Linked DNA regions of Homo sapiens: region 2 is linked to region 1. Evidence: fine-mapped expression QTL. A gene starts in region 1. The other region holds a variant in brackets. All regions are shown on one strand. Distances are between the middles of the regions.

What was found. PIP is the estimated chance that this variant, and not a neighbour inherited with it, causes the effect.
Region 2: its variant is fine-mapped to the expression of MCM10 in visceral fat (GTEx, PIP above 0.99). The same link has a PIP of 0.9 or more in breast, subcutaneous fat, thyroid and tibial nerve.

What each region holds. Positions count from the first base shown.
Region 1 is chr10:13,154,692-13,170,204 of GRCh38, forward strand. MCM10 (minichromosome maintenance 10 replication initiation factor) reads left to right here and starts at 6,867. Exons shown (of 20, transcript NM_018518.5): 1 at 6,867-6,915; 2 at 9,437-9,518. The coding sequence starts at 9,512. It also overlaps the pseudogene BTBD7P1 and the pseudogene RPL36AP36. RefSeq lists silencers at 6,616-6,929, 6,952-7,131.
Region 2 is chr10:13,180,065-13,195,577 of GRCh38, forward strand. MCM10 (minichromosome maintenance 10 replication initiation factor) reads left to right here. Exons shown (of 20, transcript NM_018518.5): 7 at 378-543; 8 at 2,869-3,036; 9 at 6,100-6,216; 10 at 8,817-9,016; 11 at 11,235-11,335; 12 at 12,191-12,301; 13 at 12,387-12,504; 14 at 14,977-15,205. Among named protein-coding and RNA genes, the nearest start is that of MCM10, 26 kb to the left of the region's middle. The variant A/G (reference allele first, on the strand shown) is at 8,773.

The sequences.
Region 1 (15,513 bases):
ACAAACCACTGCTCAATGAAATAAAAGAGGATACAAACAAATGGAAGAACATTCCATGCTCATGGGTACGAAGAATCAATATCGTGAAAATGGCCATACTGCTCAAGGTAATTTATAGATTCAATGCCATCCCCATCAAGCTACCAATGACTTTCTTCACAGAATTGGAAAAAACTACTGTAAAGTTCATATGGAACCAAAAAAGAGCCCGCATCACCAAGTCAATCCTAAGCCAAAAGAACAAAGCTGGAGGCATCACGCTACCTGATTTCAAACTATACTACAAGGCTACAGTAACCAAAACAGCCTGATACTGGTACCAAAACAGAGATATAGACCAATGGAACAGAACAGAGCCCTCAGAAATAATGCCGCGTATCTACAACTATCTGATCTTTGACAAACCTGACAAAAGCAAGCAATGGGGAAAGGATTCCCTATTTAATAAATGGTGCTGGGAAAACTGGCTAGCCATATGTAGAAAGCTGAAACTGGATCCCTTCCTTACACCTTATACAAAAATTAATTCAAGATGGATTAAAGACTTACATGTTAGACCTAAAACCATAAAAACCCTAGAAGAAAACCTAGGCAATACCATTCAGGACACAGGCATGGGCAAGGACTTCATGTCTAAAACACCAAAAGCAATGGCAACAAAAGCCAAAATTGACAAATGGGATCTAATTAAACTAAAGAGCTTCTGCACAGCAAAAGAAACTACCATCAGAGTGAACAGGCAACCTACAGAATGGGAGAAAATTTTTGCAACCTACTCATCTGACAAAGGGCTAATATCCAGAATCTACAATGAACTCAAACAAATTTACAAGAAAAAAACAAACAACCCCATCAAAAAGTGGGCAAAGGATATGAACAGACACTTCTCAAAAGAAGACATTTATGCAGCCAAAAAACACATGAAAAAATGCTCATCATCACTGGCCATCAGAGAAATGCAAATCAAAACCACAATGAGATACCATCTCACACCAGTTAGAATGGCAATCATTAAAAAGTCATGAAACAACAGGTGTTGGAGAGGATGTGGAGAAATAGGAACACTTTTACACTGTTGGTGGGACTGTAAACTAGTTCAACCATTGTGGAAGTCAGTGTGGCGATTCCTCAGGGATCTAGAATTAGAAATACCATTTGACCCAGCCATCCCATTACTGGGTATATACCTGAAGGATTATAAATCATGCTGCTATAAAGACACATGTACACGTATGTTTATAGCGGCACTATTCACAATAGCAAAGACTTGGAACCAACCTAAATGTCCAACAACGATAGTCTGGATTAAGAAAATGTGGCACATATACACCATGGAATACTATGCAGCCATAAAAAATGATGAGATCATGTCCTTTGTAGGGACATGGATGAAATTGGAAACCATCATTCTCAGCAAACTATCCCAAGGACAAAAAACCAAACACCACATGTTCTCACTCATAGGTGGGAATTGAACAATGAGAACACATGGACACAGGAAGGGGAGCATCACACACCAGGAATGTTGTGGGGTTGGGGGAGGGGGGACGGGGGAGGGATAGCATTAGGAGATATACCTAATGCTAAATGACGAGTTAATGGGTGCAGCACACCAACATGGCACATGTGTACATATGTAACAAACCTGCACGTTGTGCACATGTACCCTAAAACTTAAAGTATAATAATAATAAAATAAAAAAGATATATAGATATATATAAATTTATCTATCTATATATAGATATAGATAGAGATATATATAGAGATAGATATATAAAATATTTTATAGTATTGAGTGCTTGATTTTCATAGTAAAGAACCACATTAATACTGATGCTCAATCTGTCTCAGATGTCATAACTGAAGGTTCAAAAAAACTGACCCTGTAACATCCCAAACACTGAAATCATAGACTATGCTAGTTGTATTTTCAGTTTGGAAGATAAATACATAATTCTAGAAATCAAAATTTAAAATCAGAACTTCATACCTTGTGCAAGCATGTTAAATTCCAAGAACGGTGCTGTGTGGTAAAGTTCCATGGCTTTTCCTGCCCTGGTCATGTTTGGCTTCCCTGCGACGAGAGCCTGAACTTCACTGAGACTCCCCACAGAGGGGCTACAGTGCCAAACAGAGAGGTCCACCGCGTCGGTATACATACAGTGTAATATCACTTTTGCATATTTTTGTGGTATAATGGACTCATCTAATATAATTCTTGTGGGAGTCCTCAAAGTTCCATCTGTGATTTCTTCAACAGTTGGTATTCTCCTTTGTAATAAATTTTGAAAAAATGGGGACCGTGCAGAAATAACAGCCTTGTGGGCTTTGAGCTCTTCATCTAAACAGTTCTGATGTCCACCAAAAGCTTCAACCAGTTCAGAGTCTGAAGAAAAGCTAAGGACGACATCGTAATAACACATGTAATCAAAGAGTCCACGCATATCTACATCAAGGGAATTCTTCACTAAGCTGAACAAGGATAACGACATTTTGAAACCCTGAGTCTTCCATTCCAAACTCTCCTGTATAAAGATAGTATAACAAAGCAGAAAACATGGGCATATCAATACCAGCTGTATTGATGTCCATTATTATCTCTGCCCCATACTCAGGTGAGGAAGAAAGCATTTAAAAAATGGACACCTTGCTGCCAAAATGGCACGATGAACAGGATAACAAGTTTCTTGAAATATGAAATCTGTATCAGTACGATACTTGTACTCATAAAGATCAGCCATATCTTTCTGCAATGTCCGGGCTTCCGGTCTAGCCAAACTGGCTTGTAGGGAAAGCTTCTTTAATGCTGACCTTCCCTCATATTCCTCCGCTAATGCATTGACATCTCTAATATCCCACCCAGAGAGGAGTTCTCGCATCTGCTTGGCATGATCGGCAGACCTATCAGATTTTCGAGGCTTAATTAAGTTCTTTTTGAAGGTAGCAGGGCCAGAGGTCTTTTTTTTTTTTTTTTTTTTTTTTTTTTTTTGAGACAGTCTGGCTTTGTCGCCCAGGCTGGAGTGCAGTGGCTCGATCTCGGCTCACTGCAAGCTCTGCCTCCCAGGTTCCCGCCATTCTCCTGCCTCAGCCTCCCGAGTAGCTGGGACTACAGGCGCCCGCCACCACGCCCGGCTAATTTTTTGTATTTTTTAGTAGAGACAGGGTTTCACCATATTAGCCAGGATGGTCTCGATCTCCTGACGTCGTGATCCGCCCGTCTCGGCCTCCCAAAGTGCTGGGATTACAGGCGTGAGCCACCGTGCCCGGCCTCTTTTTTTTGTCTTGTGGTTTCTCATGGCCATGGTCAAGGCTATACAATTTTGATTCACAACCATAGCCTTGCTGAGAATAGGATGACGTCCCTATAAAAGTCTGTTGGGCCTGTGAATTTCCCCCTACCTTCGCGGAACATGGATGAGGATAATGAGATGCATTAGCACCCATTTTCTTCAGTCATTCAGGCATTCCGTCTGCGGGTTCTTCAGAGTATAATCCTAGAGGCCATTAGGAACCTTCAACCCTGGATCCAGCAGCCTCTTTCCATCTATTTCTATGAGAACAGGGCCATTAGACCTTACTTTAGTGCATACTATTGAAGTATGAAAGGCTGTGGGCAGCCAGACACACGGACAGTGCATTCTGTAAGAACCACACAGCAAGCATCCTCAAGTGTTTACTATACAGTCTGCCCTTCGTATTCCGTAGGTTCCTCATCCACAGTTCAATCGACCTGGAGGCTCCTCCCGCCGCCGCTGCTGCTGCTGCCGCAGGGACCTCGGCCGTCGCCCCCGCCGCCTCCGCCACCAGCACCGCGGCAGGCACCGGCGCCAGCACACCGCCGCCATCCTCCTCCCACCGCCGCCGCCGCCCTCTCCTCTCCTGTCAGTGGCTCAGGCTCCGGGACTGCTCCAGTTTTCCCTCGCCGCCATTTTGATTCCTAGAGGGAGCAGGAAGGGCTCGGCTTGGACTTTTTGTGTTTTTTTTTGTTTTTTGTTTTTTTGAGGCGGAGTTTTGCTCTTGTTGCCTAGGCTGGAGTGCAGTGGCCGATCTCGGCCCACTGCAACCTCCGTCTTCCGGGTTCAAGCGATTCTACTGCCTCAGCCTCCCGCGTAGCTGGGATTACAAGCATGCGCCAATACTTCCGGTTCATTTTTGCATTTTTTTTAGTAGAGATGAGGTTTCACCATGTTGGCCAGACTGGTCTCGAACTCCTGACCTCAGGTGATCTGCCAGCTTCGGCCTCCCAAAGTCCTGGGATTACAGACATGAGCCACCGTGCCCGGCCCACTTTTAATACATTAAAGGGGTCTGTGATAAACATCCTCCTACCGCCCAAAAAAGGTTAAGGACCACTGCAATATGGGCTGTTTGCTTTAGATTTCATTTTAGATAGATGTTGATAACTGTCAGAGCTGTTCTTTTTTGGCCTTCGTTTGTATTCTAAGGAGAGTCCAGGCCTCTCCTTAGAACCCCAGATCTGGAGATCAAGCTGGCTACCGTGCCTTTCTTAATCAGCATCTCTCATACATCTCATTCTGAAATAGAAAACTAAATCTATCTTCTCCCCTAAACCTGTTCCGTTCTTCCTATGTCTCCTACTTCAGTGCACAACCTCAAAAACGACCCTATTGTATAAATCAGAAACCTAACAGTCATCCTAAACCTGTCTCCCCATCCCCTCTCTGCTTCCTTCTCGCTAATATCTCCACATTCAATGGATGTTTTAAAAATATAAACTCAAGATTTTATTGTCTTCATAATAAAAGAAAACATGACACTTAGAACTGGATCACTTGGCCGTTTCTCTTCTTACCTCCTCCCAGTTCAAAATGCTAGCATATTTTAATAGCCAGCACTCTCTTAGAGCTGCAGCTGGGCTCAACGCACTCAAGCCTTGGCACAATTTTCTGTAGTTTTAGCCCTTTCCTGGAAAATCGGCTTAATTTGCCCACGATAGCCACTCTGCTTCCTGTCATAACGCCGCTTTCCCTGGGCATACAGAGAATCCTTCTCCTTCGTGTACAGTGTCACTTTGTGGGGTTGGTGCTTGCCACACTTCTTATAGAAAGTCTGGCGGGTTTTAGGAAACTTCGTAATGTTTGTGTGAGCGCTATCGGCACGGAAAAGCCACATTCAATGGATTTTAAAAAATCTATTTGCCTAATTGTTTCTCAAAATCACCTCCACTTCTTTTCTCAAAGTCACCACTATACTAATTCCAATAAAAAGTGCTTGATTCTTCACTTAAGGAAGGTTTGCGGGCTTAGGTTGGTTCTGTTTCTGACTCCTTGCCCGGAACTGGATGCAAAGAGGACCTGGAAAGTGAAGGTGAAGAAAAGAACTTCAGAGTACTGATCAGAATTAGTCAAGGAATTTCTGCATAATGGCTAAGAATAAATCTATGACGAATCTTTTTTTTTTAATAACTAGATGTAGTGATGCATTTATTTATTTATTTATTTATTTATTTATTTATTTATTTAGACAGAGTCTGGCTCTGTCGCCAGGCTGGAGTGCAGTGGCGAGATCTCGGCTCATCACTGCAATCGCCACCTCCCAGGTTCAAGCGATTCTCCGCCTCAGCCTCCCAAGTAGCTGGGATTACAGACGCGCACCACTACGCCCAGCTAATTTTTGTGTTGTGTGTGTTTTTAGTAGAGATGGGGTTTCACCATGTTGGCCAGGCTGGTCTCGAACTCCTAACCTCGTGATCCACCCACCTCGGCCTCCCAAAGTGCTGGGATTACAGGGGTGAGCCACCGTGCCCGGCCTTAGTGCCGTATGTTTAAAAGTACGCATTTAAACATACTTTTTCAATTTGATTACTAGAGTTCCTCCATTACTATGAATTTTTAACACTAGCAGCTCTCAGAAATGGTTGTATTCCTATTCCTGAGCCAATATAGGTTTAAGTAATAGGGCTGAGCTCATAAATGGAGCAGTAATATTCCATTAGGACACAGAAAAAAGTCAACGTAGATGGCATCAGGACTGTTTATCTTCAGTCTTCCTAAAGTCGATTTTAATTGTTCTGAAAATGAAAGTACGTAGTGGATAGAGATAGGATCTTATACCAAAGGGATTATTAGTGGGGGAACTGCAGTGCCTGAACAGTGTCTGCAAGGAGGAAAAGGGGGGAAAGACTTAAAGTGGCCATTTGGTCCATCAAAGTCTCTTCTGCTATCAATCCCTTGAAATTATGTAAAAGCTAAATGTTATTCTGCATTTAGAAACTATGTTCTTAGTATTATGTACAAACACTATTTTTTAGAATGTAAATACATAAAGAGGCCTGAATTTTACTGAAAAAAAAATCTGTGAAAGATATGGTCTGCTGATAAGTTCTCTTCAGCCCTGACGCCCCTTAGAAGTCCCAAAATCTATGGAACAGGAATTACTCGGGAAATGGTGGTTTCAGTGTAAAAGATGTCATCTACCCTTTCCCTCACTGCACAGATGGTGAAGGGGAAACTCAGAGAGATAAGTCACTTCCCCAAGGTCAGACAGGGTAAAAGTGGACCGGATCTGTTTGGTCCTGAGCCCAAACATTTCGAATGGACATAAGGCTGACAAAGGAACAGTCGGTCCCAGAGCGTCAGGAGTTGAGGTGGGATGGGACCGCAGGGAAAATACTGGGTGGGATGACTTAAACTTCCCGGCACCAGGGGGCGCCAGACACTCTATTTTACCTAAAGGAGACTGGCTTCTACCGACAGGAAGGTCCCTTGCCCCCAACAAAGAGGGCGTCCAATGACGTAAACCAATCCGATTGCTCTGTGCCAGGGCCGGGATTCGCTGGCGTAGCCAGTCAGTGCTGCCCCACAGCCGCGTGCGTCTGACGTCAAGGCAGGGGCGGGATCCGGTTGGAATTTTGGCGGGTTCAGCTGTGAACGAAGAAGGCGTCCCGGCATCGGGTGAGGAGCGCGGGCCCCGGGCGTGCGTGTGACCCTCGGGCGGCGGGGCCGGGGCCGCCTCGCACGTCTCTGCGCGGGTTGCAAGGGGTCCGAGGCTAGAGGCGCGGGGTCCCGGGAGCTCGGGTGGGCGCGATCTGGATTTGGCGGCAGCTTGGGACCGCTCGGAGCTGGCATGGCCGGGCCGGGGGCTGGGAGTTGCTGGCCGTCTACTAAGGAATCGGGTTCTTCCTTTTAAACGCAGCCTTTTAAGTGCTTGCCAAGTGCCTGCCGCCTGGGCTTTCTTTTATTCATTCATTCATTCATTCATTCATTGGTTTCTCGTATTCATGATTTGCCAATGATTATTGAATGCGGACGGTGTGCATGGCTCGGATCACATTTCCGCTGCCTTCACAGCGCTTACAGTTTAAAGGCACGAGCAGGTAGTAAACAAATGCACGACAGTGGACGACTCAGGGTGGTCCAGAAAGTCTCAGAAAGATGAGTAAGTGGAGACCGAAGGGCGAGAAGGACCTGGGGGGAGCTTTCTTCGACAGAGCCTGAGACCTCAAAGCAGCTTAGTGTGTTCCAGAAGGTGGAAGCGGGCTGGCCCGGCTGGAGCATCGTTATGGGTGTCGGGGTGGGTAGAATTGGACGTGGTGGATTGTGGAAAATGTGAGGGAGTAGAAAGCTTGGAAAGAGAGAGAGAATATGAATCATTGCCTCGCAGGCTTTGTAGATTTTTTCTAAGGGCAATGGAAAATCATTAAAGAATTTCAATGAAGGGACCCCCATGATCTGATTTATGTTCCTAAAGGTTACTAAGGAAAGGGAAGATTACCGTGGCTGTCGTATGCAGAACAGATTGCACGGGGACAAAGAGACCAACATAGAAAGCTAACACAGTCATTGGGTTAAAGGTTGACGGTGGCTTGGCCTAGGGTTCTGGCAGTGAAGTTGGAGAGAAGTGGCAGATTTGAGCAGTGTTTTGGAGATGGGACCACAGTACTTGTCAGTGGCCGTGGATTTGAGGGCGAGGGAGGGTGCACAGTTTCATTTTGGGGGAAGGCAAGGCCGGTTACAGACTTGAACGAGACAGTTTGCTCCTAACGCTCAGGAAGCTTACTGTCCAATAGGTTCCCCAGTAGATAGCACAGTGTGTGGCACATGAGGGATCCGTGGAAATGTTGGTTGAATGAATTTTTAAAAAGCGGCCAGGCGCGGTGGCTCACGCCTGTAATCCCAGCGCTTTGGGAGGCCAAGGCGGACGGATCACCAGGTCAGGAGATCGAGACCATCCTGGCTAATACGGTGAAACCCCATCTCTACTAAAAATACAAAAAATTAGCCGGGCGTGGTGGCGGGCGCCTGTAGTCCCAGCTACTCGGGAGGCTGAGGCAGGAGAATGGCGTGAACCCGGGAGGCGGAGCTTGCAGTGAGCCAAGATCGCCCCATTGCACTCCAGCCTGGGTGACAGAGACTCCGTCTCAAAAAAAAAAAAAAGCACCTTTGGGAGTCCAAGGCTGATGGATCACTTGACATCAGGAGTTCAAGACCAGCCTGGGCAACATGGCGAAACCCTGTCTCTACAAAAAACACAAAAATTAGCCGGGTGTGGTAGTGCACGTTTGTAATCCCAGCTACTTGGGAGGCTGGGGCAGGAGAATCACTGGAGCCTGGGAGGCGGAGGTTGTAGTGAGCCAATAGCACCACTGCACTCCAGCCCCAGCGACAGAGCGAGATCCTGTCTAAAAAAAGAAAAGAAAGTACCATAATCACTGTAATTAGTTCCTTGACATTGAACTTGCCAAAGAGCACATGTAAGTTAAATAAGAGCCTAGAAAAATGTATACTTTCTTACTTGCAGTTTAAAAAATAACCTTAAATGAAAAGAGAAGTGCACAAAGTGATACAACTTTGTCTTAATTAGCTACGCTGTTTCTCTGTGCTTTGCTGACTAGTATTGAATCAAAATCCTGATTGTCACTAAGGCTCCACCTAAGTAGAATCATACAGTAAGCTGTCGTGGATAACGCAGATGTCAGGTGTATTACAGTGAATAAAATGAAAGAATAGCCTAATGTAGATCGACCCCAATAATTTGTGTGTGTGTGTGTGTAATTTTTAAAAAAGACAAGGTCTTGCTATGTGACCAGGCTGGTCTCAAACTTCTGGCCTCAAGTGATGCGCCCACCTTAGCTTCCCAAAGTGCTGGTATTACAGGCGTTGAGCCACTGTACCTAGCCAACCCCAATAGTTCTTCCTCATAATTTATCTCATCCACGTAATCTAGTGTGATTTACAAACTGCTCTGCAGCTCAATAACTTTCTGTAACCTTAAACACAAGTAAAAGTGAGCTGCTACATCCAAGGAAGGAGATGGCATTGGCGGTGTGGAGAGAGGAGGTGAGAAATGGTCAGATTCTGGATGAATTCTGAGGTTAGAGCCCATAGGAGTGGTAGGATTCTGGGTTTGTTGGATGTGTGTTGTGAGAGAAAGAGAAGAATTGAAAGTGACATTTCTAATATTGCTTTCACACAGCCAAGATTCTACATTGCTCATCTGGGCATCTGAGCCTCCTTCGAAGTTTCCTGTCACAACTGTCCTCTTGACAGCATGGATGGTAAGACCTGGCAGTTTTCTGTTACTCTGTTTCAAGGAAAACTAACCTTTTGTCCATGGACTTGTTATTTATTCTACCTGTAAAATGGTGAAAATGCTCCCCAGCCCTCAGGTATTGTCTTAGTGGTTCTGAAGCAATCTCACATCTCACAGAGGTCACTGAATGTTACTTGCTTTTATCAGGGGAGATTTCTTCTGGCAACAGAGATTGTCTTTCATAATTACAATAGCTGGTAGGTGTACAGTGGGCCAGGCACTGCTCCAAGATCCTTGTGGAAATTAACTGATTCAGTCCTCAGGCAAACGTATTTTATAGGCAGAAAAACAGGGATGTTTAGTAACTTGTCACAGTTCAAGCTGGCATAGCAGGGCTTTGAACCAGGCAGTCTGACTTCAGAGTTTACATTTGATAATGAAATCTGCTGAAGCGATATTAGTCTAGCTCTGACTTAAGTTTTTATTAATATCATCCTTTCTAATTTTGTTCATTTTGCAAGGATGTGTACAAAATGTTTACCTAGAAAAGAGATGTTGCACTAATTAGCGATCACCTAAAATGATTGTGCTGGGCTGGACGCAGTGGCTCACGCCTGTGATCTCAACACTTTGGGAGGCCGGGGTGGGAGGATTGCTTGAGCCCAAGAGTTCAAGACCAGCCTGGGCAATAGAGTGAGACCTCATTTCTATTTTTAAAAAATTAAAATGATTGTGCTGGTTGTGAAGAGATCTAGTTGCATAATTGAACTCATAATCTGAAACTGGGTTTTTTTAAAAAATTCAAACATATTACACTTTGCCCTTTAAAACAAAACTTGAAATTCCTCACACTGTGATGCACAGTGGACCCCCGTTGTCCCTGAGAGATGTGTTTCCACACTCCCAGCAGATGCCTGAAACCCAGGATGGTACCAAACCCTAGGCATGCTGTGTTTTTTCCTGTACATACATACGTGTGATAAAGTATAATTTATGAATTAGGCACAGTGAGAGATGAACAACAATAATAAAATGGAACAATTATGACAATATACTGTAATAAAAGTTATGTGAATGTGGTCTCTCTCTAAAGTATCTATTGCACTCTCAAAATATCCATTGTACTGTCCTCAACCACAGTGACCATGGAAAATCAAAACCACAGAAAATAAACCCTCAGATAAGGGGTTATTCCTTATGTGAAACTCATTGCCTGATGCTATCATGGTAGTTTCCTGTTTCTTAAAATTGGCAAATTGCCTACAGGGCAGGTTATATAATACAAAGCATCACTTTTTGCTATCAGATTGACATGAAAATAAGAGGTGAATGGATACCTGTTCTCTAAGAAATCATAGTATCTATCTGGAAACAGTATAGGTCAAGAAAGAAGAAATCATAATGTTTAGGCTGGGTGCGGTGGCTCATGCCTGTAATCCCAGCACTTTGGGAGGCCAAGGTGGGTGGATCACCTGAGGTCAGGAGTTCGAGGCCAGCCCGGCTAACATAGTGAAACCCCATTTCTACTAAAACTACAAAAATTAACCTGGTGTGGTGGCATGTGACTGTAATCCCAGCTACTCAGGAGGCTGAGGCTGGAGGATCACTTGAATCTGGGAGGCAGAGGTTGCATTGCATCGAGATCCCACTACTGCACCTCCAGCCTGGGTGACAGAGCAAGACTCCATCTGAAAAAAAAAAAAAAAAAGAGGAAAAAGAAATCATAATATTTAGTAAGAAAATCTCATTTGATTGGCATGGGTTCACAATTTGGCCGGTGTAGAGGAAATCGGAGACTGTATGGTACTTGGGATATACTGTTGAACAATGTTCCTGCTTATATTTTAGTGGAGGGAGAAAGATAACAAAACAATAAACGGGTAGTTAGTAGATGGGAGACACTGCTATGTCTTTGTATGCTGACAGGAGTGCTTCAGAGGAGAGGGAGAAACTGGGGATTCAGGAGCCAGAGAGGTGGTAATTGTAGAATGAAGTCTTTGAGAAGCTGAGAAGTGGGACCCAATGTAAGAATGTAAGTGGAAGAATTGGCTGTGAATAGCACTAGATACTTAGTCCCAGGAGGGAAAGCAGAGAAGATACGTTCAGAGTTGGGAGTGAAGGATGAGGAAGTCTGATTACATCTATTTTTTCTGTAAAATATAAGCCAAGGGCTGGGCGCTGTGGCTCACGCCTGTAATCCCAGCACGTTGAAAGGCCAAGGCAGGTGGATCACCTGAGGTCAGGAGTTCGAGACCAGCCTGACCAACATGGAGAAACCCCATCTCTACTGAAAATACAAAATTAGCTGGGCGTGGTGGCACATGCCTGTAATCCCAGCTACTCGGGAGGCTGAGGCAGGAGAATCACTTGAACCTGGGAGGTGAAGGTTGCAGTGAGCCGAGATCGTGCCATTGCACTCCAGCCTGGGCAACAAGAGCAAAACTCTGTCTCAAAAAAAAAAAAAAATACATACATACATATATATATATATATATATATATATATCATCAGCTAAGAGTAAAGAGTGGGGAGTGGGCATAGGAGGTTTGAGGAGAGACAGTGTGAAGTGGTCAGAGCCTGGGAAAGCGAATGAATTGAGGAAGTGTGGGAATCTTTAAGCAGTGCTGAATGCTTGTTTGTTATGGGTGTGCAAAAATTTAAAGTTAGACTGAGGCAGGGTCTTGTTGATCATACCTGTAGTCCCAGCACTTTAGGAAGCCAAGGCAGGAGCATCGCTTGAGGCCAGGAGTTCAAGACGAGACTGGGCAACATGGCAAGACCCCATTTCTACAAAAAAATATTTAATAAGCTGGGCATGGTGGTGTGCACCTCTAGTCCCTGCTGCTTGGGAGGCTAAGGCAAGAGGATCGCTTGAGCCCAGGAGTTTGAGGCTATAGTGAGCTAAGATTGCAACACTGCACTCCAGCCTGTGTGACCCTGTCTTGAAAAATAAATAAATAAATAAACAAACAAAAAAGACCAGTCAGCATGGTAGCGAGTCTTTCTCCAGGACCATTCACCAGCCAGGGAGCTGAGTCTTTAGAAGGCAGTGAGTGATGATGGTGTTGAACATGGATCCACAGGGAGGGCATTAGGGGCAGGGGGTGATGGACAGGAAACACATTGTAGGTAGGCTGATGGGTTAGACATGTGGATGAAGCTGAAGAGCTGCTGGATGTGAATACTAGAGTGAGCGGGCTGAAAGGATGGGAGGTTGGATCACAGAGGGACGTTCAGAGGTCAGTTGTGCTTTGCTGTGATGAGTTGGAGTTACTATGGGAGTGGGTAGCTAAGATGGGGAGTGGATGAGAAACCCAGCGACCAAGATGTTGGCTGGATCATCCTTGCGGAGGTTGAAGTGCCCCAGGAGGGTGATAACAGTAGAGATGGAGGGGAGGACCGGGGGGGGCATGCATGATACACATATGATGATCAGCACATGACAGTGCCATGAGGGGTTCTTGATGCCAGCGTCTGGTGTCTTGAACTTCAGAGAGCTGTGATCTGGAAAAAGACTGAATCATTCCAAAGTGACAGTGATAAAGAAGACATCAGGAACCTGAAGTTGATCAACAAGTATTTGTTGCATGCCTAATACGTGCCGAACACTATTCTAGACATTGCCATGTGAGGTGTGAACAATTAAATGCTTTCCATTCAAGAGGCTTCCAGGGGTAGCCAGATTTCTGTTGTAAGAGCCACTGGGGATCCGAGAAACGTGCTGATAGTAGATTTCACATCCCAGGGGTTTGAGAACAAAGAGGCTGGGAGATTGAGTCAGCGTAATACAGAGAAGACATGATTTTTGGTGGTGACTGAGGTAAACGGGGTTGTGAGGCACCATGGGATTAGCCCTCGTTCTCTTGTGAAGGGTTCAAAGTGAATAGTATGGGGTCCCCAGGCAGCATTTTCCACCTGTGGCCCCCAGTGGTGTGAGCCAGAGCCTCTTCCCGGGGTGTGCCCTCTTTGGCAGACGGGAACAAGAGATGGTGGAGGCCTCTTTGCTTCCTTGCAGGCATGTGACATTCTCAGAGCACAGGGGGCTGCCTGGCCTCTTCTCTCTTGCACTGTGCAGCCTTGGAGTCTTTGTGGACTAAGCAACTCAAGCTAATCCTTATACAACCTCTGACTGAGCATTAGGCCCCATCATCAGATTCTAGGCCTGAAGTTTGGCTACTGGCTTTTTCCTTCTGGTAAGGGAGTGTAGAGTGGTGGAAAGGATATTGGTTTGCTGATCTAGAGATTCCTTATTAACCCAGCTCCTGAACTGATCTGTTTCTCCATGTGATCCTGAACAAGCCCCTCACCCTCTCATACTCTAGCCCCTGAATTTCAGACAAGGAGAGTAGGTCAGATATCCTTAATATTTTTCCATTGAATACCTCTGATTTTATAAACAAATAGTGCCCAAATAGGGGGGAAAAAAGAGCAAAGAAAATAGATAAATCAAGAAAGAAGAAATCCGATTGGCAAATAAACAAACAATTCTTAACCTCACCAGTAATCCAAGAAATGCAAATCAAAACAGTGAGATGCCTTTTTAAATCGTCCATCAGATTGACAAAAAAATATTTAAGTGACACATCAGATATTGATGAGGTGGTGGGGAGAAGTGGCCCTTGTGTACAGCTCTAGTGAGAGTGATACAGATGATAGCAATTATTTAGGGAGATAGTAAGGGCAACAGAGTCCTCAGCAGAATTTCCCTTTTAGCAAAAAGCAGCCCCCAAGTAATTTCTAACAAGGCCAGCCAGAAAAATCAAGCGGACATAGAAAAGCAAGCTAGTAATTTGCACGGATGAATACCTGCAGCTGTGCCAATAGGAAAAGGCTCCCTGGGGGCCAGGCGTGTTCAACATGGCGGCCCTTTTTCTGTGTCAACCACGTGTACAGTAAAGAAACAGACAATATGGCGCTGGCCAGGTAGAGAACCACCTGCATAATAAAAGATTAGGGTGGGGCAGCCAGGTTTTCCACCCTATGCAAATGGCATACCTAGTCCAGCCAATCTTTTATGTCCTGTGTAAATCAGACATTGCGTCCTCAAGCTCGTCTATGAAACCCCATGCATTTTGCCATGGACGCGGCAACCCATTTCTCTGGGACCTCTCTGCTGCCGAGAGCTCTTCTCTTTCTTTTGCCTATTAAATCTCTGCACTTAACCTCACTCCTTGTGTGTCAGCATCCTTGATTTCCTTTGCATGAGACAACGAACCTCAGGTATTACCCCAGACGAACTATGCCATTTCAAGAGTGCATCCACTTTGAGAACAATTTGGCAGCATCTAGCAAAATTGGAAAACGTGGATACCCAGCAATCCAGCAATTCCATTTCTGATAGATATTCCCAAGAAACACATGTGCGAGAAGACGGATACACGATTACAGCGTATTTAGTAGTGGGGAAAAATTAGAAATAGCCCATATTGTCCTTTATTGGAAAATGGATTAATGAGGTGTGATACAGTCTTATTATAGGATACAATATAGCAACGAAAAGAAAGAAACTAGAACTATATGGGGTTTTTTGTTTGTTTTTGAGATGGAGTCTCGCCCTGTCACCCAGGCTGGAGTGCAGTGGTGCGATCTCGGCTCACTGCAACCTCCACCTCCCAGGTTCCATCAATTCTTCTGCCTCAGCCTCCTGAATAGCTGGGATTACAGGCACGGGCCACCACGCCCAGCTAATTTTTGTATTATTAGTAGAGACGGGGTTTCACTTTCTTGGCCAGGCTGGTCTTGAGCTCCTGATGTCAGGTGATCCTCCTGCCTTGGCCTCCCCAAGTGCTGGGATTACAGGCGTGAGCCACCACGCCTGGCTAGAACTATATGTTTTGATTTGGGTTAATCTTACAAGCAATGTTGAATGAACCTGGAATGCAGAGTAATGCAGTGTGGAATATTTATGTAAATATTTTTAAAACCATCTAATATAGATTGACTATGACTGCCTATATATTTATGTAAAAGCATAAGAATGGACTGGAATGATGCCTCAAAATTATGAAAGTGATTACAAT
Region 2 (15,513 bases), 25 kb after region 1:
CCAACATGGCAAAACCCCATCTCTACTAAAAATACAAACATTAGCACATGATGGCACATGCCTGTAGTCCCAGCTACTCAGGAGGCTGAGGCAGGAGAATCACTTGAACCTGGGAGGCGGAGGCCGCAGTGAGCCAAAATTGCGCCACTGCACTCCAGCCTGGGCAACAGAGTGAGACTCCATCTTTAAAAAAAAAAAAAAGAATTATTTATTTATTTGCTATAAAAATGGATGCCTTGGTCATACTATATAACTAAGCTTCCCAAGAACAGGTACTGTAGAGGTTTCTGACCATCACACTCCCTTACCACCTGCTAAGGTGCCAGGTAATTTCTTTATTAGAATCATAATTACTAATCGCTGGTTTCTTAACCCAGGCGGCCTCGAGTATCCTCCACAGAAATGAACAAGAAAATGACCGGCCGAAAACTGATCAGACTGTCTCAGATCAAGGAAAAGATGGCCAGAGAGAAGCTGGAAGAAATAGATTGGGTGACATTTGGGGTTATATTGAAGAAGGTTACGCCACAGAGTGTGAATAGTGTAAGCCATTGTATTGGTTTCTTAGCTGTTTTACTACAAACTGACAGTGGGAATTCGATGTCCTGAATTTGTTAACTGGAACCTGTTGGTGTTTCATTTAGAAATAAGTATAGTAAGTTCCAGAATCACCACACATCATTGAGTTGGTATCCAGCGGGTATAAGCAAAGGATGCCCTATTTAAATAAGACCTGGTGGTACAGGTTTCTTGGGCTTTCCATTGTCCAAATCATCCTTACTGCATTTCACTTGTCATTGTTTTGGGTGACACATGTGGTTGTCCCTGTGACACTGTGATCTCTCCCATGGAGGAGAGGCGCAAGTAACCAAAGAGGCTGAGCTCACCGATTCTTTGGAGGTCCCTTTAGATGTAAAGTACCAACCACAAAAGTGCTGAAATTGCTGGCCTGTGTCAGTGCCGTGTGATATATTTAATTTGATGGTTATTACCAAAGATCTAACAAGTTTCAAAATCACTTTTGACTGAGTCATAAATGGGAAAGTTATTCTGTGACCTGGCAAGTCAGATAGCCTGTCTTCTAAGCCTTGTGCCTTTAACTAGCGATGTTACCTTAGGTTGGCTGTTAATCTTTCTTTACCGGCTTCCATTTCCTTATTTATAAAATGAAGGAACTGACTTTGATTAGATTGAAAATCTCTCCTATCTCTAAAATGCTATGATTGATCATGCTCAATCATGATGTTATTCTCTAATTTAGATCTTGGCCCACCTTTGGTTTTTCGTTAGAGCTGACATGGGGTTGAATTTTAAGAGTACCTGGTCCTAAGCCATTATCCTCCACAAACTAATGCAGGAACAGAAAACCAAACGCTGCATGTTCTCACTTATAAGTGGGAGCTAAATAAATGAGATCACATGGACACAAGGAGGGGAACAACACACACTGGGGCCTGTTGGTGGAGGGCAGGGAGGGGGAGAGCATTAGGGAAAAGAGCTAATGCATGGCAGGCTTTATACCTATGTGATGGGTTAGTAGGTGCAGCAAACCATCATGACACACGTTTACCTATGTAACAAACCTGCACATCCTGCACATGTACCCCAGAACTTAAAAAAATTTTAAAAAATTAAAGATTACCCGGTCTTACACTAGCCCTGTCACTGTTGAGGTAAATGTGGACAGGTCTGGTTTTCCTTTGATCAAATTCTTAGTTACTTCATAAGTGGCTGTAATGACATAATAATAATAGACACGAGAATTTATCTGAACTCTTCCAAGACAGGCACTGCACAAATCCCTGGAAGATGGATTCCAGCTCAGCGTCCGGGCAGTAGATTCCATGCTGTAACCCATAACCATCCCCAGCCCGGGATGCCTCTGTGAGATAGTGCAAGTCAAGATTATTCACAGTATTCTGGTTTTAAAAACAACCGTAAAAGTGGAGGTTTTTCACATTATAATCGGTCAGCATTTTGAGCTGTATTTCTTCAGATACTTAATCATACTTCTGAAATGTTAAGGTTAAACTCAACCAGTTTTCTTGAAATGATGCTTTTGTAAGCTAAGCAGAGATGTAATAGCCTAGAAAGGAAACTTCTTTTTTCATATTAATAATAGACTTAGGCTAGGCTTGGTGGCTCACGTCTGTAACCCTAACGCTTTGAGAGGATGGGGTGGGAGGATCACTTGAGCCCAGGAATTCATGACCAGTCTGGGCAACATAGTGAGACCTCATCTCTATGAAAAGAAAAAAAAAATTAGCTGGGGCTGGTAGCACATGCCTGTAGTCCCAGCTGCTTGGGAGGCTGAGGATGGAGGATTCTTTGAGCCCAGGAGTTGGAGTGAGCAACGGGACATGATTGCACCACTGCACTCCAACCTGGATGACAGAGCAAGACTCTGTCTCTAAAAATAATAATCATCATATAATTAACCAATGATATGGAATAGATTTACTCATTTACCTAATATTGATTCATATCAGTAAGTTATTAAATGGTACTGTCATACCTTCCACTGTCCTTTTAATGATGTGTGTGTGTGTCTCTGTGTCATTAGAAAGGCAGTGCTATCCCACTCCCTCTGCTTAGACCCGAGATAACTAGAGACTCTGCTAACAAGTTTGCCACTGGCTTGCTTTATTTCACTTTCATCTCTAAAATGAGAAGGGTAATAGAATGCAAAAGCCTAGAGAATGGGTTAAAGTTATCACACATGCTGATGATACATATTTGAATAACAACAAAAAAACTTGGATTTTATGGATTATAGGCATATAGTTTTCCATAGTAAAACTCTTGAATCATAAATGAGGACGGCATAACCTACAGTTCAAAATTATAAAAAATAACTATTTGTTCCAGGGAAAAACCTTCAGCATATGGAAACTGAATGATCTTCGTGACCTGACACAATGTGTGTCCTTGTTCTTATTTGGAGAAGTTCACAAAGCGCTCTGGAAGACGGAGCAGGGGACTGTCGTAGGGATCCTCAATGCCAACCCCATGAAGCCCAAGGATGGTTCAGAGGAGGTAAGAGCCTGTTTCTGGGATTTGATTGATGATTGTCTTTACAAGTTAACTGAGTTTTATCAAAGATGTTTGATGCAGCACACAGTGGCTCACACCTGTAATCCTAACACTTTGGGGAGGCCAAAGCGGGAGGATCACTTGAGCCCAGGAGTTCAAGACCAGCCTGGGCAACATAGTGAGAACCCCATCTCTACAAAAAATGTAAAAACTGGCTGTGAGTGGGGGCACACAACTGTAGTTCCATCTATTCAGGAGGCTGCGGTGGGAGGTTGAGGCTGTAGTGAGCCCTGATTGTGCCACTGCACTCCAACCTAGGTAACAAAGTAAGACCCCATCTCAAAAAAAAAGACAAGAAAAGAAAAAAGTTTGTATTAGTCTACCTCCAGAAAATAAGTCATGCTTTTATGTGATTGTGTCTCCGTGAATCTGGCTTTTCATTTTTTGTTCATTCATTACCCATCAGTATTCTGAATTTCCACCTATTCTAAAGTGTTTTGTAACAACTACTTTTATTCCATCTTTTCAAATTAGTTACAAAGTTCCTGGAGTTTTTGAACTATTGTACTCAGGTTTCCTTGGATTCATACCTTCTTTTTTTTTTTGAAAGTGAGTCTTGCTCTGTTGCCCGGGCTGGAGTACAGTCATGTGTTCTTGACTCATTGCAAACTCCGTCTCCTGGGCGTAAGTGATACTTCCACTTCTGCCTCCTGAGTAGCTGGAACTACAGGTGCATGCCACCATGCTCTGCTAATTTTTGTGGTTTTTTTGTGTGTATGTGATGGAGTTTCGCTCTTGTTGCCTAGGCTGGAGTGCAATGGCGTGATCTTGACTCACTTCAACCTATACCTCCCAGGTTCAAGTGGTTCTCCTGCCTCACCCTCAGCAGCTGGGATTACAGGCATGTGCCACCATGCCTAGCTAATTTTTTTTGCATTTTTATTAGAGACGAGTTTTACCATGTTGGCCAGGCTGGTTTTGAACTCCTGACCTCAGGTGATCCACCTGCCTCAGCCTCTTAAAGTGCTGGGATTACAGCCATGAGCCACCACGCCCAGCCTATTTTTGTGTTTTTTGTAGAGACAGGGTTTCACTATGTTGCCCAGGTTTGTCTCGAACCCCTGGGCTCAAGTGATCTACCCGCCTCGGCCTCCCAAAGTACTAGGATTACAAGTGTGAGCCACCGTGCCCAGCATGATTCCTTATATAAATTTTTATGGTGGCATCAAGAAAGCAGTGTTTTATAGTTGAGGGGATTTTGCTCCGTTGACTGTGACAACCATAGCTGCAGTTTAAAATCAAAGTGAATTTTCATCTTCTCAAATACTAGAGTTTTGGCACTACCTACTGCTTCTCTAGGAAATTGCAAATCTAGACACAGTGTGAATAGCAACTGGCAGTTTCTCTACTCTGACCCAGCATGGAGCTTTACTCTGTTGTAGTCAGATTATTATTTTCAAGAGAAGTGAGAAAAATGTTATCTCATTCCTTGCTTTCACCAGAGAATGGCAACAAATCTTCCTCTATTGGTTAGGAATGTGTTTGGCTGCAAGTAACAAACAAACTTAAGTATAGTTTCTTTTCAACAATAAACAGTGGGGCTTATTTTTCTTACATATTAAAAAAATTCAGATTTAAACACTATAGTGATTTAAGAGTGACATCTCTGTGAGTCTCAGCCTTTCTCTCCTGGTCACAAGATGCCTTTGAAACTCTAGCCATCACTGTGAATTGGCATACCGTGGAAGGGTGCCAGTTTCTTGGAGAGGAATACCATGCACTGTTTACCAGTCCTGTGGGAGGGCTCTAAACACCTTGCCAATTTCTACTATTTCCAGATCTGGTAGGTTCCCAGATCTGGCTGGAAGCTTTGTACAAACCCAGCTGCCAGTGGTTCAGCATAAACCAAGCTACCAGCAGCTTTGCACAAGCCTGCCTACAGGAGTATGCATCCGGGAGACAAAGCACACACAAATTGGGCAAAGCACCTTAGGCAGCGAGACTCCACAGAAGCCTAGGATCTGGGTTGAGCCAGTCCACCAAGACTCAGTCAAGGCACTCCAGGCAGGCAGAGTCCTGTCTGCTCATGGCTCTCTTCACCCTGCAGCGGAGGGATTATGAAAGCACCCTGATCTGGGTTTTATAACCTGGAGGCTACTTGGCTTATTGAGCTCAAGTGTTGTAAGAGATCTTGTCCTAGGAGGGGTGAGGACAAAGCCCGAGCTATTCAGGACAGTCCCTCTTGGTACAGTCTGTCCAAGAAGAGAATTGCAAACAAGAAGGGAGAGAGCTGAGTTCAGCAAGGCCCTTGAGGGACTTGTCTCCCTCCAGTCATCTCCATTCAAGGCAAGAAGTGAAGAGGAAGGGGGAGCCAGCCTCCTAACTCATTTTGTCAGGAAAGCAGAAGCTTCCCTACCAACTCCTGTTTATGTCTGAGCATCTAGAACTTATCACATAACCAATGCTAGCTCTAAGGAGTGCTGGGAGAACAGGGAACAGGATCTATGACCTGAGGCTGAGAAGTCAGCCAGCCTAGAGAAAATCAGGATTCCAATCGCAAAGATGAAGGAAAGGATGGAAAATGGGAAAAGAACTGAAGGTGCCTTCTGCATCCCTGTTCCTAAAACGGTTATAGAGCCCTGGCTTCAAATTCCTTTAGACCACTAAAACCTCTCTCCTTTTTGAGACGGCCTCACTCTGTTGCCCAGGCTGGAGTGCAGTGGTGTGATCACAGCTCATTTCAGCCTGGACTTCCCAAGCTCTAGTGATCCTCCCACTTCAGCCCCCCAAGTAACTGGGACTACATGCACGCACTACCATGCCTGGCTAATTTTTGTGGTTTTTTGTAGAGACAGGGTTTTGCCACATTGCCTAGGCTAGTCTCAAACTCTTGGCCTCAAGCGATCCACCTGCCTCGGCCTCCCAGAGTGCTAGGATTATAGGTGTGAGCCACTGCGCCTGGCAATAACCTTCTTAAATCAGCACCAACCATTCTTTTTTCTATTCCTGCTAATAAAAGGCCATAATTTTGTCCGCCTTTAACTCCTGCCCCACCTTTTCTTACAGGTGTGTTTATCTATCGATCATCCTCAGAAGGTCTTAATTATGGGTGAAGCTCTTGACCTGGGAACCTGTAAAGCCAAGAAGAAGAATGGAGAGCCGTGCACGCAGACTGTGAATTTGGTTGGTTTCAGCCTTGTTAGGATGGTTTCTGCTAAAGAAAAGAACAGTTAGGAATAAACTGTTGGTGCTTTAGCTGTGATGACCAGTTTGGAACTGAGTTTCCCACTTAAAGGAAGAGTCAAAATGAGAAAATTTAATGTGTGGTTAATAACTGCCAGTTTAAAAAAGTGAGGGCAGGGGAAAGGTGAGGGGATTTAACCTCTTAGGAAAGTGATCTTTTATCTGACCAAGAAGTTTAAGACAGAATTTTTGTTTGCCTTTAATTCTTGTAATTCCACAGAGCAAACATGATGAAATACAATGAAAATTGTATTTTAGCCTATATTTTAACTCCATTATACCTTTTCTTAGGGCTTTTTAAAAAATAATAGCTTCATTTAGGTATAATTCACATACCATGCAATTCACCCTTTTAAAGTAAGCAATTCAGGCCAGGTGTGGTGGCTCACTCTTGTAATCTCAGCACTTCGGGAGGTCGAGGCGGACAGATCATCTGAGATCAGGAGTTTGAGACTAGCCTGGCCACCATGGTGAAACCCCATCTCTACTAAAAATACAAAAATTAGGCGGTCATGGTGGTGGGCGCCTGTAGTTCCAGCTACTCAGGAGGCTGAGGCCAGAGAATCACTTGAACCTGGAAGGCAGAGGTTTCAGTGAGCTGAGATCGCACTATTATACTCCAGCCTGGGCGATAGAGTGAGATTCTGTCTCCAAAAAAGAATATAAATAAATAAAGTCAACAATTCAGTAATTTCTAGTACATTCACAGAGCTGTGCAACCATCACCACTGTGTAATTTCAGAACCCTTTCATTGCCCCAGAAAGAAACCCAGTACCCACTAGCAATCACTCCCCAGTCTCCTCTCCCCCAGCCCCTGGTAAGCACTAACCTACTTTCTGTCTCTATGGATTTGCCTCTTCTAGACATTTCATATAATGGAATCACAATATGTGGCCTTTTCTGTCTGGCTTCTTTTGCTTAGCATAATTTTTCTCACAATTGATCCGTGCTGTAGCATTTATCAACACTTTATTCCTTTTTGTGGGTAAATAATATTCCATTGTATGGATATACCATACGTTGTTTATTCTTTCATCAGTTGATACACGCTTGGGTTGTTGCCACATTTAGCTATTATGAATAATGCTGCTAAAACACTCACATACAAGTTTTTATGTGGATGTATGTTTTCCACTCCCTTGGGCATATACCTGGGAGTGGGATTGCTGGGTCAACATGGTAACTGTCCAGAGTTTGGAGGAACTGCCAGACTGGTTTCCCAAGTGGCCCACCAGCAATGGATGAACTTTCCAGTTTCTCCCTGTCCTCATCAGCACCTGTTACTCTATTTCTTTTTTGTTATAGCCATTGTAGTAGGTGTGAAGAGGTACTTCTTAGAGTTCTTTGAAAGGATTAAATGACAGGTTTTGGTTTAATCTTTTTTTATTCCCTTATTCCTTCCTATTAGATTAATTGGTGGACAGGAAAGAATAAGGTGGGAGACGGTTGGAAAATGAGGTTTCAGAGTGAAGTACCCAACAGATCTCCCCGTGAGAATTAGATTCTTAAAAATCCATTGTCTGGATGGGGCGGTGGCTCACACTTGTAATCCCTGCACTTTGGGTGGCCGAAGTGGGCCGATCACTTGAGGCCAGGAGTTCAAGACCAGCCTGGCCAACATGGTAAAACCCCGTCTCCAGTAAAAATACAAAAATTAGCTGGGCGTGGTTGTGCACACCTGTAATCCCAGCTACTTGGGAGGCTGAGGCAGAAGAATCACTTGAACCTAGGAGTTGGAGGTTGCAGTGGGCCAGGATCACGCCACTGCACTCCAGCCTGGGTGACAGAGCGAGACTCTGTCTCCAAAAAAAAATCCATTGTCGCCGTAACTACTGTTCACCCAGCAGAACAATGCTGCACCATCTCTCTTTGTTTCTTTCACTGAAAGGATAGCACTTGTCCGAGGATCAACCAGAGAAACAGCTAGAAAAACCTCGCTGGGAGCTGATTTTGTTTTTAAATTATTTTTTATTGGGTCAAAATTCACAATATACAGTTAATCATTTTAAAATACATATATAATTCAGTGATATTTAGTTGTGTAACCACCAGCTCCCTGGTTTCAGAATTCCATCACCCTGTAAAAACAATGGCACCATAAAGTCATCACTCCCATCCCCACTCCCTCCGTCTCCTGGTGACGTCTAATCTGCTTTCTGTCTCTATGGATTTGCCTCTTCTATAAAAACTTCCTTTTATATTAAATAACATAGGTCCTATATTAAATAACATAGGACCTTGTGTGTCTGACTTCTTTCACCTAACTTGTTTTCAAGGTTCATCCTAAAAGCTGATTTCCTTTGTAGAAAGAGGGCAAGGGGTATTTCACCAGAACAGTGCTTTCAGGGGACTCGAAGGGAAGAACTTCTTCCCCTCAGGGACTGAGCAGCCCTTCCACATTGGGAACGGTCGTGGAGGTCAGCAGGGAGGACTCTGCATGCGTCATGTTCCGGGAAGTGGGGAGAAGGAACTGTGTCTGCTCACTGCTGTTTCCC[A/G]GCCTGTTGCCCTCATCCTGATGCCACTGCTCTGCCTTTTGCAGCGTGACTGTGAGTACTGTCAGTACCATGTCCAGGCTCAGTACAAGAAGCTCAGCGCAAAGCGTGCGGATCTGCAGTCCACCTTCTCTGGAGGACGAATTCCAAAGAAGTTTGCCCGCAGAGGCACCAGCCTCAAAGAACGGCTGTGCCAAGATGGCTTTTACTACGGAGGGGTTTCTTCTGCCTCGTATGCAGCTTCAATGTAAGACGTTCTCGGGCTTCTTTTGGGCAGAGGATTTTGCTTATCAAAGACTAAACCTACTGGTTGTACCTTCCTGTAACCGTCATAGGATACTTGTACAGGTTTTATCTTTCATAACTCACTACTTGAAACAAGTTGGTTAAAGACCGCTTTTATTCCCAGGTAGAGAGAAAAACTTTCAGGAGAGAGAGAGATTGACTTATGTTGTGTTGGACTTTAAGAGAGCCCACTCTTCCTCTTCAACTTTTTTTTTTTTTTTTGAGACGGAGTCTTACTCTATCACCCAGGCTGGAGTGCAGTGGTGCAGTCTCAGCTCACTGCAACCTCCAAGTCCTGGGTTTAGGTGATTCTTCTGCCTCAGCCTCCTGAGTAGCTGGGACTACAGGCGCGTGCCACCACGCCCAGCTAATTTTTGCATTTTTGGTACAGACAGGGTTTCACCATGATGGCCAGGCTGGTCTCGAAATCCTGACCTCAGGTGATCTGCCTGCCTCGGCCTCCCAAAGTGCTGGGATTACAGGCATGAGCCACTGCTCCCAGCCCCTCTTTGACTTCTAATGTGAATAGTGCACCTTCATCAGGGCCATTAAAAATGTGTTAATTACAGTGTTAACACCCTTTTAATTATTTCTCGTATGACTATATGAGTGAGGCTACAGACCTCATGGAACCCAAATTTCATTCAGTGAGTGAATATACTATGAAGCTTCACATGGGGAGTGGGGCGATGCTGGGCAGGCATCCATGGCCCCTTGCCTGGGGGTTCAGAGTCACTACAGCCCCTGACGCTGTAATCCAGGGGTGTCCAATCTTTTGGCTTCCCTGGGCCCCTTTGGAAGAATTGTCTTGGACTACACATAAAATATATTAATGATAGCCTATAAGCTTAAAAAAAGAAAGAAAAGAAAAGAAAAATCTCTTAATGTTTTAAGAAAGTTTATGAATTTGTGTTGGGCCGCATTCAAAGCCATCCTGGGCTGCATGTGGCCCGCAGGCTATGGTTTGGATAAGCTTGTAATCAGTGGCCTCGTCACTACATTATATAAAGCATATCTGAGGACTTGGCACGAGGCAGCTACAGTTGGTCCAAGAATAAAACATAGATTTTTGTTCCCAATCCAGCAGGAATGGGGCAAGAGGACTCATTTCCTGTTTCTTTTTTAACAGTAAGCATGTTTTTGAGATTTAAAATTATTTCTGAATTTTTCCAATCTGCTAAAACAATACATGTATATTAGTCTTTTAAAAGAACATACAATCCAACCAATGGAGAAAATAAAAACCAACTATAATCCTATCACCTGAAAAACTGTTAGTTCTAGGCCAGGCACAGTGGCTTACACCTGTAATCCCAGCACTTCGGGAGGCCAAGGCAGGAGGATTGCTTAAGCCCAGGAATTTGAGACCCGCCTGAGCGACATGGCAAAACCCCATCTCTACAAAATGCAAAAAAAATTAGCTGGGCATGGTGGCACATGCCTGTAGTCCCAGCTGTTTGGGAGGCTGAGATGGGAGAATTGCTTGAGCCTGGGGAAGTTGAGGCTGCAGTGAGTCAGGATTGCTCCACTGTACTCCAGGCTGGACAACAGAGTGAGATCTTGTCTCAAAAAAAAAACCCCAAACTGTTAGTTCCTTGGTATATATACTCCTAGGTGTTGTGTTTCTTCATATGTGTACATTTTTAGTAATATAAAATGAGATCATATTGTTCCTATTCTTTGTATCCACTTTTTTTCCAGTGTAAAATAATTAATGTTTTTCTCATGTATTTTCAGTGGCTACATAGTGTTCTTTTGCATACTCTGCCTTAATTCATTTAAACAATTCCCTGTGGGTGAACGTTAATGGTGTTTCCAATGTATGACATTATAAACAAAGCTGCCATTAATATCCTAAATTTTTGCATAATCCTTAATTATTTTAAGATAAATATCCAGACTGCTGGATCAAAGCATTGGCTTTTTTTTTATTTCTTTTGCCAAATTTCCTTCCAGAATGGCCTCAAGTGGATTTGTAGGCTGCCTCTAGCTTTTCCTCTGTGACACAGTGCATAAACCAGTTATGCTATTGGGCCGTAACATTAAGAAAGCCTACTTAGATGGTGTTTTGAGAAACTTTGACGGTGTGTGTAATAAATGATGATATCTATGCCTTCTTTACCTCATCAGAGCATTGAGGCTTTAGTGATTCTCCTTTTGGGGGTGACTTGTCATTTCAGTGCAGCAGCTGTGGCTCCTAAGAAGAAGATTCAAACCACTCTGAGTAATCTGGTTGTTAAGGGCACAAACTTGATCATCCAGGAAACACGGCAAAAACTCGGTAACTTTGTTTTTCCATAAGAAATTTCTTTCTCCAGTTTAATTATGCAGCCTTAGGGATAAAAGACTACACATTGGGTACAGGGTACACTGCTCCGGTGATGGGTACACCAAAATCTCAGAAATCACCACTAAGAACTTATTCATGCACAAAAATAAATAAATAAGCAAGCAAGCAAGCAAGCAAGCAAGCAGTCTTTAGGGTTGAAAATGGATACAGCTCATACTCTTAAGTAATAAGAATCCAGTCATCACCTGTACTTAGTGAGTGGCGCGGTCTAACCTAAAGGAATCAAGCCAGGTTTGCAGGACCTTAAGGAAAAAAACAGCATATTGATTTTAGCTATGTCTTACCTTAGTATGCTTTTTAAAATTTCTTGGTGTATCTGGGTCCAACTCTTTACATCCAGCATTAGAATCAGCAGTATTATCTTCCTGGCCAAGCTTATTGGTTATCTTTTGTTAAAATGGGTCTTGGTCATAAAAACAAAAAAATTTTTAATAAAATAAAAACAAATAAAAACAAGTCTTGATCAGAGAATGCAGCCCCCATCCTGGGCTTGTGGTCAGGGACCCTTATCCTTAGCGGATATTCCAGAAACAGGGTATGGAATGACCCCCAGATTTAAGGGCTTAATATTCTAATCATTACTAGAAATAAAATATAGTCGAGATACCCTGCCATCCTATGAGTCTGATGATAGAGGTTAAGGATTCTTTTCTTTCCTCTTGGGATTCCGTCTTCTTCGTTTACGTATGACTAAAATTACAAGTGCAGAGTTTAGAAAGTGGTATGTCATATGACCTCAAACCATCTGAATGTGAATCCTCTAAAGCTGGTGTTGACCTGGCACAGGAATACCCCAGAAGAGCCTGTCTTGCTCTGAGGAGTTCAAGGAACTGATGGACCTGCCGACGTGTGGAGCCAGGAACTTAAAACAACATTTAGCCAAAGCCACAGCTTCAGGTACCATCAGCTGCATGGCCACACGTGTGTCCCTGTGTTCCCTCAGCCTCCCAGGGCACCCCCTCAGTCTGGGCTTCTGTTTCAGGGATTATGGGGAGCCCAAAACCAGCCATCAAGTCCATCTCGGCCTCAGCACTCTTGAAGCAACAGAAGCAGCGGATGTTGGAGATGAGGAGAAGGAAATCAGAAGAAATACAGAAGCGGTAAGAGGAGCAGATTTAATATTCCCCGCTTGGGTCATCCATCTCAGGCGTCCTCAGAACGTCTTCATCGATTTCCAGAATGTGACTTCAGGTTTCGGTTGGCTGCGTTTTAACTCTGAAAGTTTAAAATAGTTTTCCCATAACCTGAATAGCATTTAAGGCTGTATTATTTCTTACACTGGTGACTCCCAACACCAAATGGTACAGGTTAGAGTCGTTATCACCATGGAAAAGGGAAAGGAGTGAAGTGTATGTAAAGAGGGTTTTTGTGAAGGGGGAGAGCGTAGGTTCACATGCTGGCTGTCATTTTCTCTCTCTCTCTCTTTTTTTTTTCTGAGACGGGTTTTCACTCTGTCACCCCAGCTGAAGTGCAATGCTGCAGTGTCGGCTCACTGCAACCTCCATGTCCCAGGCTCAAATGATCCTCCTGCCTTGGCCTCCCAAGTAGTTGGGACTACAGGCATGTGCCACTATGCTTGGCTAATTTTTGTATTTTTTTATAGAGACTGGGTTTTGCCATATTGCCCAAGCTGGTCTCAAATTCCTGGACGCAAGCCTGGATTTGCCTGGCTGCCATTTCTGGGTTTTGCCGCAATTCAGTTTTTTATGACAGGCAGAGCCAGTGAGTAGAATACAGTTCTTTGGATAAAGGACAAAACTGAAGCACTAAAAATGGAGAGTCATTTTAGAGGCAAAAGCAAGTGGAAATGTGTTACTTGGCTTCAGCCAATAATTAAAAAAAAAAAAAATCAAGTGGAAATGCATAGGGTAGGTGGACAAATGAATGATTCCTGAACTCAGGTCACCTGAATACTAATGAGAGCTGCGGTTCACAGGCACTTCATACGTACTCCATAAACACAGTATCTGAGCCTCCGGAGGCTTCTCAGCCTTGTTTTACTAATAGTGTGCCTGGAGATCAGAGAGCTAGTTTATGGTGGGGCCGAGTTTTGGGCTCACACATGTTGTGCTCTGGTGCTGAACCTTTTGCCATCCCGAATCTGGGCTGCTGAAAGGCAACCACATCCATGAAAGGGAGTCAATGATAAGACAAGAGGAAATTCTTTGGGAAAGTAAGAGAATGGGTTTGGTCTCAGGCAGATTAGTTTGAAGTGCCGGTGGGATATCTATAGAGCTATTCATCTTGAGCCTACAGATGACATAAATTATATACGTGGACACAGAAATATGTATGGAGTTGGGGGCCTCGTGGGAAATAGAGAATGCCCATCAGCTTGAAGGCATTGCGTAATGAAAATTTTCAGAATTTTGTTGGCCAAGGAAACCTTATCTTTGCGTAGGATTTGATAGGCAGTTTGCAAACACAGCCTAGAGCTTGCAAGAGTGGCTGTGCGGTTGGGAAGAGTACTGCTCTGGGATGGCCTGGCTCTAATCCTGAGTCTGGCCCTTGTGAGTAATGTGATCCTAGGCCTCAGTTTCTTCATCGATCAAATGAGAAGTTTGGACTAGATGATTTCTGGGGTTTGTTATTTGTTTTTAAATATCTCTTATGAGGCTGGCTTGGTGGCTTATGTCTGTAATCCTAGCACTTTGGGAGGCCGAGGCAGGCAGATCGCCTGAGCCCAGGAGTTTGAGACCAACCTGAGCAAAATGGCGAAATCCTGTCTCTACAAACAGTACAAAGATTAGCTGGGCATGGTGGTGCACACTGTGGACCCAGCTACTCGGGAGGCTGAGGTGGGAGGATCACCTGAGCCTGGGAGGCAGAGGTGGCAGCGAGCCGCAATCGTGCCAACGCACTCTAGTCTGGGTGACAAAGCAAGACCCTGTCTCCAAAAACAAAAGTAAAATAGCTCTTAAAACTATTTTTTGCCAGGCATGATAGCTCACGCCTATAATCCCAACACTTGGGAGGCTGAGGCACGAGAATCACTTGAACCTGGGAGGCAGAGGTTGCAGTGAGCCAAGATCATGCCACTGCACTCCAGCCTGGGTGACACAGCGAGACTCTGTCTCAAAAAAATCAAAAAAAAGAAAGGGGATGTAAAATAATCGCTGCAAGTTACAGTGTTTTTCATTAATGACTTCCAAATGTCTCACATGTATTGTCTCTTCCCAGTAGCATAAACAAAGATGCAGGGAGGTGCAATGAGTTCCTACAGGCCCTAGAGCTGACGGTAGGGGTGGGAATACAGTTCACACCGCGTCTTCAGCTGTGTTCCTTGTGGATGACATCCACTGGACAGCCAATTGATAAAAACAGTTATCAGTTCTAAAGTGTTAGGACAATTACAGCTTATTCAAAGAAAACTCAATTAAGGAGGAGTTAGTAAAGCTAGTATTGTTCTTATCGTGTGCAAATTTGAATTACCAGCCTAGAAGGGGACATTATTTTGCTAACAACTAGCTCCCAACTGGTGGCCTGCCTGCCGCCTCCCAGTCCACTTTGAGTTCTAGAGTTTTTATTTTCGTAAACCCTGTTTGCGTATTTTGACTGTATGTTCTTTAAAGATTTCTGCAGAGCTCAAGTGAAGTTGAGAGCCCAGCTGTGCCATCTTCATCAAGACAGCCCCCTGCTCAGCCTCCACGGACAGGATCCGAGTTCCCCAGGCTGGAGGGAGCCCCGGCCACAATGACGCCCAAGCTGGGGCGAGGTGTCTTGGAAGGAGATGATGTTCTCTTTTATGATGAGTCACCACCACCAAGACCAAAACTGAGTGCTTTAGCAGAAGCCAAAAAGGTAACTGGCATCTCTTCTCTTTAGCACTTGAGTTTGCATTCTGTAGAGCAGAGCTGGAGGAAAGACAGACACCTAATAGCTCTTTATTGATCGTGATCATTAGAGTCAGTGTAATTTGAAAACATGGTAGTGTCAACATAATACTAAAAGAAAGTTAGATCTGTTATCTCAACACTTTTTCTTGTCAGGCTACAAGAGGTAGCCTAGAGGAAGATAGTGTTTTATAACCAGAGGCATTGACAGTAGGAAAACAATGCTTGGAATTGTTGAGGTGAGACTGTAAAATGGTGGTTTAAGGAATCCTTTTT